Linked DNA regions of Homo sapiens: region 2 is linked to region 1. The links come from fine-mapping of genetic effects on gene expression. A gene starts in region 1. The other region holds a variant in brackets. All regions are shown on one strand. Distances are from middle to middle. Region 1 holds the start of PIRAT1 (PU.1 (SPI1) induced regulator of S100A8 and S100A9 alarmin transcription 1). Region 2 overlaps PIRAT1 (PU.1 (SPI1) induced regulator of S100A8 and S100A9 alarmin transcription 1).

What was found.
Region 2: its variant is fine-mapped to the expression of PIRAT1 in whole blood (TOPMed, PIP above 0.99).

The regions. Positions count from the first base shown.
Region 1 is chr2:37,873,205-37,877,595 of GRCh38, forward strand. It overlaps PIRAT1 (PU.1 (SPI1) induced regulator of S100A8 and S100A9 alarmin transcription 1), which reads right to left and starts at 2,659. Exons shown (of 4, transcript NR_110012.1): 1 at 2,539-2,659.
Region 2 is chr2:37,824,655-37,829,045 of GRCh38, forward strand. PIRAT1 (PU.1 (SPI1) induced regulator of S100A8 and S100A9 alarmin transcription 1) reads right to left here. Exons shown (of 4, transcript NR_110012.1): 3 at 4,279-4,384; 4 at 1,593-3,224. Among named protein-coding and RNA genes, the nearest start is that of PIRAT1, 49 kb to the right of the region's middle. The variant C/G (reference allele first, on the strand shown) is at 2,550.

The sequences.
Region 1 (4,391 bases):
CTGAAGGCACAGGATGGTTAAAAGGAGCCTTCATTCCTGCGACTCTACTCTCTTCTCCTCAAAGAAGTGGCAGGCAAGGTAGGGCATTCTCACTGTCTCAACAATATAATTTGCACATGCCCTGGCCCTGTGCCCTTCGGTAGCCATGTCTTCCCTCCCTGAAGTCCCCTGGGATTCTCCTTTGTCACTAACTGGCTTCCTTTCCTGGCATGGAGCACCTGACCCTGTCTGCTTGTCTCTTTTACCGGCAAACTATATCTCCCAAGTTGGCTGGCTTTTACCTTAGGGGTCAGGAGAGGGAGCAATCAGGCCAGAAGAGGGACAGGAGCATCAGCCACCTAAAGAAGGAATGGTAGCAACAATGAGACTGTTTAATCTTTCTAATTGCTGACACCTTCAATACAGTATCTGATATTCATTCAGTAGTTATCAAGGGTCACTTCTGTGCAGCCACTGTTCTGAACTCTCGGAATACAGAGGGAAAAAGACAAAGTGCCTGACCTCATCTAGCTTTCATTCTAATGTAGTAGCTAGGCAATAGACACATAAACACGTAAATATATACTAGAAAGCCAGCTAGTCAAGGGCATGCTTATCGTTGTTTTTTGGTTACCCAGAATCTGAACCTCCATCCTATGTTTGAGATTCCCTACCTCATGGAATCTGGTGGATAAGCAGAGCCCATGGTCCATTACATAGAATTTGAAAATGCCTGATAGTGGTTTTATCAGCCTCTCTTGTAGAAGGAGCCAAGGCCTGTGGCCAAGGCTCCACCAGCCAGACACACTGGCCCACAATTTGAGTTAGGAACCAATGACTCAAGGACAAAGAGACTGAGAAAGCCCTCATAGGAGATGGCAGCAGCTGCAGAAAGATGGGGATTCCAAGGGTGCTGGTGACAGCGGGTTCCAGCAGTGTTAGTATCTGGGACGGTAGCATTGGTGACATAACCAGTGGCAGCTGGGGCAGCAGAGATCCCACCAATTCGTGCAATGCGTGCACTCTTCTTGGCTATAAACCACTAAGCCTTCCCAAACATTCCTGGAGCTGTCAAAGTCTACACATAAATCCTTCTTCTACTTAAACCCGCCAGAGTTCCTTGTGCCCTCATCTAAGAGCTGAACACAAGTAGTAACAAGTGCTCAATCAAAAGGAAAGCCAGACGAAGGCATGGAGAGTGATGAGAGGCTACCTTAGGTAGGTGGCCAAACTCAGCCTCTCCATGGATATGGCTTTTAAGTCTCTCCAGAAAGCCCGAGAGCAAGGCCACCTGAAGACCTGAGGGAAAGAACTCCAGAGAGAGGACACAGTGCAAAGGCTGGGCAGTGACAAGCTGGGGGGCTGAGGAATACCAAGAAGGCCAGTGTAGCCTGAGCTGAGACAGAAGCTAAGTCAGAAGGACAAGCCAGGGCCACAGTTGGTGAGGCTGGTTAGATTGTCGTGTGGAGTTTGAGTGTCATGCTGCGTGTGAGGGAAGCCCCAGCTGGTTTTAAGCAAGGTGACACGGTCTGGTAGTTGAAAAGATCACCCCGGCTGCTGTCAGAAGAATAGTCTGTAGCAAGACAGGAGTGGAAGCAGAAAGATCAGAGACTCTTGCAGAGGTTCAGGAGCCAGGTAGTATGGGTCTGATCCCTCTAGGCCGAGGGCGTTTGAGTGGCGGTGGTGGGAAGAAGAAAGATGAGGAGTAGATTTTGAAGGTAGAGCTGAGAAGCCTTGCTGTGTGTTAGATGAAGGGTGTGAAGGAAAGAGACAGTTCGGGACCGAGCCGCTCTCTGAGATGGGGAAGATGAAGAGAAAGGCAAGCTGGTGGGTGGAGAAGTCAGGATCAAGAGTTTGGCTTTAGATCTAGTGAGTGGGAAACACCAATGAGGTGGAGTGGAGACAGAGTCTGCAGGGGGATGTAAGGACCTGGATGAGGTGGGGGCGAGCTGGGCGCTGGAACTAAGTGTGTGGGATTCCTCGGCACGGGGAGGAAATGTACAGCCATGAAGCTCAATATGCTCACTCAGACGAGAGTGTGGTTCGAGAAGGGGGCTCAGGACAGAGCGCTGGGGAACCAGGGATGAAGAGATCACAGCGAGGAAGAGAATCCAGCTAGGGAACTGCAGGGCGGGAGGAAGAACACAGACTACGGCGTCCTGGAAGCCAAGAAAAGAAAACAGGGGCCTTGGCAATGACCCTAGGCACTTCCAGAGGATGCTTGTATCAAGCAGGTAAGGGGACTGGGGCTCCCAGAGGATGGGCCACCCCGTTTCAGTGCATGGCCCGGCGCCTCTTTAGAAGAGGAAGCCCCTGGATTCCAGAACGTGCTGGCTCCACCCAAGGCAGACGGCAGTGAGGCCACACACTATTCCCAGCCCCTTTCTCTCTGAAAAGAGCCCTTTGTAACTTCTTTGAGAAGGAAACACCTCCGTCAGGGGAGGAACATTATTTGCTTCCTGTTAGAACAGACTTTTACTTAGGATCAAGCTCGGTGTCAGCCCCATCCCCACAGGGAGCAATAAGGGAAAGAGGAGGGAGGGGGCCGCAGACACTCACTTGTGGGGGCTGGTTTCGCAGGAACGGCTCCGGAGAGCTTGAAGAGGGGTAGGCTGCAGGCCCACAGCCGCAGTCTCTCTCAGCTAGAAACCCTCCTCCCTCCTCTGCCAGCCTGTCCTCCCCGGGCTCCGTTCGAAAGGCCTGGGAGATAGGGAGAAGGCTGGTCAGCCTGGGCGGTTAGTGGCTGGTTTAACACTTCCTTGCCTGCCAGCCCTTTCCCAGGAAGACTACAGCCAATCATTCATTCATTCAAAAGCTCTTTGCCAAGCACCTACTCTGTGCTAGGTCTGTGCCCAGCATGGGGACACAGTATTAGGCAAAAAAAAAAAAAACAAAAACCAGACATCCCCCATCTGCCCTGAACTTACAGTCTAGTGGGATAAATTAAACAAGGCACGCAAACACCTCTACAGCCACAAATGTGATAAGGCTCTAAGTGAATATCGCACATGACAGTGGCCCTGCTGAAGGCCAGGCAGAGGTTCCTTCTTGAGGAAGGACGTCTCTGAATCTCCAGAAGCCAATAGAATCTGTAGCAGCAGAAGAAAGGGTCAGGTTTCTAGAACTGCCCACTACGACTTTAGAAGCTGACGCATCTCTGTTATGCCGCGGCTGCGATGTTTTAAGTCCCCAAAGCCCAGAGCACATCGTGGAGCATGGAAGTGGTTCACTGAGAAGCTGAATCTAGTCCTGGGGCTGCTGGTGTGGAGGGTGTGTTCCGCTCTTGGGGCAGCAGCAACAGGTGCCGTGAGAGGCTCAGAGCTTTTGAAGCAGAAATGGCAATACTCTACATCTTCAGCAAATATTTGGGAGTCTTTTGTTAAAAGAAGAGCAGAATAAATATCTATGCCTCTTGTAAAACCCAAAGGAAAGCTCTCAGATAGGCTTCTTTAGGGCTATGACTATCTCTGCAGCTTCACTATACTGAGTTAAGTCTGTAGAGCATCTGTAACCCTAGGCATGTGTGTCCACAACCTCCACACGTACACAAGGACACTCCTACAGAGGACAGGCCGTGCGGACAGTTAGGGGAGGACAGTGGAGGCCGCTTCAGTTCACTTCGGTGCTTTGGATTCAAGTGTTTTTCTGTTTCATTTTCTGGGTAGCTGATTATTAAGCTAAACACTCCTTTGATGGTTGAAAATACATTAGTCCCTTTTCTTGCACGAATCTAATTCACCAAAGCCTATTAAAGTGCTTTTGGACCAATGAGGAAATTTAATGCTCAAGTATTTTATTCTGAATTCCAATTTTCCTTGTGTTATGATTTTACCTATAGGTGGTTGGGTTGATTGTATGGTAAAGATGAAAAAAAGCATATTTGGAAAGAACATGACAATTCTCAAGGTGTTTATACTACTTTACTGTATTTGATCCTTGCAACTGCCATGTGAATTAGGCAAGAAATATTTCAGTTTTACAAATGAGAAAACTTCTGTCCTGAGACATTAAGTGATATACTCAAAGGTCATATAATAATTTGTTTTGTTTTTATCTTGACTACCATACTCCTCTATACCACCTTCAGGACTCTGGAAGTCAGATATATGTGAGTTTTTTGTCAACTAAATTCATAGTTGTCTTAATATTCATCCCTTGCTAAAATTAAGGTGCAGAAATAAAATCTGTCTAATAGAGAAATATAAATCCATCTTTTGTCTGGATAATCAAATTTTACTATATTTTGTTTTAATCCTGAGAATGAAATTTTACAAATAGCTCAGGAGGTTTTCCCTAGAGTTCCAAATAAAAGTGTGTGGATCATATACACGTTCTGCTTAATCACATGACGGTTCCAAATTTTTAATTTCAATCCTTCATTACGATGAAAATTTTTGCGTTTTTTTTCCACC
Region 2 (4,391 bases), 49 kb before region 1:
GAGAAAAAGGCACCAAGGGATTCACCAGTTTGGAAATGGCCATTTCTAATCTTCATGTTCCATATATGGCAACACCAAATCCTTTGGAATGGGATGAACACAGAAAAGGCCTGTATGTTCCACCTAAGCATTCTCCTTGCTGCAAGCTCTCTGGCCAGTTGTAGGGCATGCAGCATTGCTCTCTCCCACTTTATTATTTTAAATGCTATTCATATTAAGGAATGAGAGTAACTAATGTTTATGGGAGCTTGTTAAATGCTGGACACTGAGGCATGTTGAGGATTAAATGAGATGATGTCCAGTGCCTCATTGAGGTAAGTGTTGTCACAGTCTCACTTGTGAGGCTAGTAGACTGGATCTCAGAGGTCAGATAACTTTCCCAGGCACTGGCCTAGGAATGGGCTCAGCTGGAATTCAGACAGAGGCAGGCAGACCCCAAGGTCCCTGCTCCTCCCCACTGTGACTCCTGCAAGTGGTACAGACCCATGTTCTGGGCACAGGCATTAAATGGTCACAGGACTATGCTCAGTCTGTCTCACTTTTTATCAGAGAGTGAAGGAAAAGGTATCCAATCTATAGGGAGATGCCCTGCAGATAGCAAGGCCAGCACTTCATGTCCAGTCTTTCAGAGCTTTGTCAGACAGTCGATTTTCCCTTTCTAATGCTGTGACTGGGATGAGAAGGCAAAACAAAAAGAATTAAAAATATAGTATTTCTTTCCCTACTTGGCCCAAAGGAAAGGTTCCGTGGGAAGTTGAAAAACAGATGGTCCAGGGCAAAAATCAACAAGTTTGACATCCAGGATTAAAAACCAGATGGCACTAAACAATCTTTAGAAGCCTCTAGAGGGGCTTCAAAGAAATTGCCCAAAACTCCATGTATGTTTCCATGAAGGCAAGTAGACTTAGTCATACATGATCTTATGATCTGTGGCCAGGTTCTCCTCCACCCAAAATTGTTCCCTGGGATGGGATCAAGCTAAGCACTTTGGGAAAGGAATGGGACCTTTTAGGCCACCAAGAACAGAGAATCCTAACATCTTATGGCTTTAATCAATGCAGTTGTTTCACTGAGTTGACTGATCAGATTAGGCAGCCGCCTCTAATCTTCTCAGGCAGGTCAAGGCTCATAGAGAGCCCAGCATTTGAGGAAACATAAATGTGGTTTTTAGTACGTATGCTGTTAAAGTCCCAGCACATAAACCTCCAGAAGTCACACTTCTCCGAAACCAGTCAGATGTAGAGGCATCTGAATAATGGCTCTTGTAGGGAACCCTGTTCCTGCTTCCTGTTCTTCAGCTGCTTGGAAAACATTGCTGGAACACTGGGATCCACTGAGGGAGATTCTTCCAGAAGTGTCCTGTGTCCCAGACTGTGACTTTTCTAACCAGCATGGACACAGTTGAAATCTAAGCTCCACTGCATCTGCTGCTGCCATGATAGAAACACTGGCATAGCATGTGCTAGGTACCAGGCCCTGGTCTAAACCAGTCACCTATGCTAAAGCACTTTATCATCACAGTGACCCTGGGGGGAGGGTGGTCCTTTGAGGGGACTGATTCATGGAGGTTAAGTAAGTTGGCCAAGGTCACTCAGGTGGTAAAGAGTGTATTAGTTTCCTGTGGCTGCCATAACAGAGTACCACAAACTAGGTGGCTTAAAACAACAGAAGTTTCTCTCTCATAGTTCCATAGCCCAGATATCCAACACTAAGGCATCAGCAGGGCTGCACTCCCTCCAAAAGCCCCAGGGAAAGGTCCTTCCTTGCCTCTTCCAGCTTTTGCTGGCACCAGGCATTTTTGGCCTGCAGCAGCCTCACTCCAGTCTCTGCCTCCATCTTTACTTAGTCTCTTCCGGGTCTGCAACTTCTTCTGTCTCCTATAAGGAGACACTTGTCATTGGATATAGGACCCACCCTGATAATCCAGGATGTTCTCATCTCTGAGAGCCTCAATGTAATTACATCTGCAAAGACCCTTTTGCCTAATAAGGTCACATTCACAGGTTCCAGGGATTAGGAGATACATGTATCTTTTGGGGACCACCATTCAGTTCACTACAGCTGAGCAGCTGGGATTTGACTCAAGCAGTCCAGCTCCAGCACGTGGCCTCCGACCATCACGCCATGCTCTCTCATGTGGTTACTTTTCACAGGTGTCAGCAAAATGCCTGCTCAATGATCTGAGATTTTTTTTCACAAATCATCACAGAGCTGAAATGCTCATTTTTCTGTGCTGCTACTCTGTCCATGTTCCAGAAAGGCAGCACATTAAGTCTACACCACATCACGCATCCCCTGACAGATGGAGAGAATATCAGCAAATCAGATTGCTTTCTAAAGAAAACAGAATCCAACTTTGCAAATGTTTAAAGCTTGCATATTTTCAAAATTTCAAGCAAAAGTAGAAAACCTCATTACCTCAGATCACGGTTGACAAAACTACCATTGACAAAGAATTATCCTACATGCAATGAAAACCCAATATAAGACAGTGAGTGATTGTCCAAAACGTGGGTGTTAGGTCACTACCCAGACAACAGCAGAGTTGA[C/G]GGTTCTACCCTAGCTCTCTTTTGATGAGGGAAAACATTATTTTTAAATGAAGCCTGCCACTTCAGTGTAGAAAACATAAAGATGTGGACAGTCACCATTGTCATTTAAAGGGTGAGCTGTATTTCTTCTGAAGTAAAGTGATGAGTCCAGGCAGTACACTCACTCTATCAGATATGATTTGAAAAGCTGAAAAATAAACCTCTGACAATAAGATTTTAGGACAGAAATGCTGCCAGGGCTCGAAGTACATTTCAGAAGAATAAAAAGAAAGTAAACGATGCCAAAGGCCAGACAAACAAAAGGAAAATTCCTACTTCGTTTGTTCTCATGAAATGCCACAGAAAAATAATCTGTTAGGCAGCTCTTCTGGAGTCCAAGTTCTTGCGCTGTGCTCATCTCTTCTTTCTGTTAAAGCTCGGTGCTTTGCAAGCTGTCGTTAAATTGCTTACACGGATGGACGGGGCCAAGATGGTTTTCAGTCTAAAGCCAGTGAGAGTCTCAAGGCAGATTCTGAAGGCCTTGAACCACCTGAGCCTGGCCAGATGGATTCTTCCTTTCACTGTTGTGACCATTGCTTTGGTGTCAGAACCCTATGGGAGAGCTGAGTCCATGACCAGAATCCTCATGCCTTTCACAACTCCAATTAGCCAAGAGCATGGCACGGAGCAGAGGTGCTGGTGGGAGAAAACAACACATAGGTGAAAAACCTCGGGATTAGGCATTTCAAACAAGAGGCATTCATTTTGCCCGACACCCAGAGTTGCCCCATAAACAAGCCAGAAACTCAACCAGGCGGTGACGGAACAAGGAATGGATGAGTGACAAACTGGGCTGTTGATTCTGTTGTAACTGAGGCTTGACTGTATTAACAAGCATGCAGTGATTAAACAGACCAGCACCAGAATTTTAGCAGCTACCTTGAAGCCTGCTGACTGACACTGTCCCTGGAGCCCCTGTTATAATGAGGTCCTTGTGATAACTTACTCCCTTGGATAGAGTCCAAGACAGGCACGTGCCCTGTGGAATTCCACACTGTAACCAACCATACTTCAGAGAGATTCCAGAATAATGATGGTATTGCTTATTTAGGCTGAAGGTTATCTGCTCCTCCTCCTCCAGATCCCTGCCAGCCAAGGGAAGAGCATCTCATTGGTGTCAGATGACAAGGGTCTTGTTCCCTTTACTGGAATAAGCTTCTTATGTCATACAGACTCTGGAAGTCCTGAAAAGCCATCTGTCTTGGCCTTTACTTTAGGAAAGAAAGTATCATAACCTGCCACAGCAGTGGGGACAGCTGAAGCCGGGGGTTACTATTCGCCCTTGTTACTATTCATGGAGGCTCTTAGGGAAATGACCAAAAAGCTCTTTATGGCTCTTGCAATTAATCCTGAAATTCTGGTTGTCACTTGTGGGTAGAAACATATGGTTTACAAATGGGTTGATGATTATTATTTCAAGGAAAAACTAAAACATTATAATGAGAGTTATAACATAATGGTGGGACAGTATAAATAGGGAGAGAATTTGTAGTGTTTTCTTGTTCGTTTTGTTACATGAATAGACAGCTAGGGGAAAATGGCATTCTATGGGGAACTGATGGGATTTATTTAATATTTATTTAAATAAATTTATTTATTTATTTATTTAGACACCTCTTTTTTCCCGTCTAAGTTATAAACTAATTAAGAGATGGACAAAGAATAAGGTAAAGGAAGGTCAAAATATTACCTTGGGCAGGGTGCAGTGTCTCACACCTGTAATCCCAGCACTTTGGGAGGCCAAGGCAGGAGGATCACTTGAGTTCAGGAGTTTAAAATAGCAACATAAGAAGAATCTGTCTC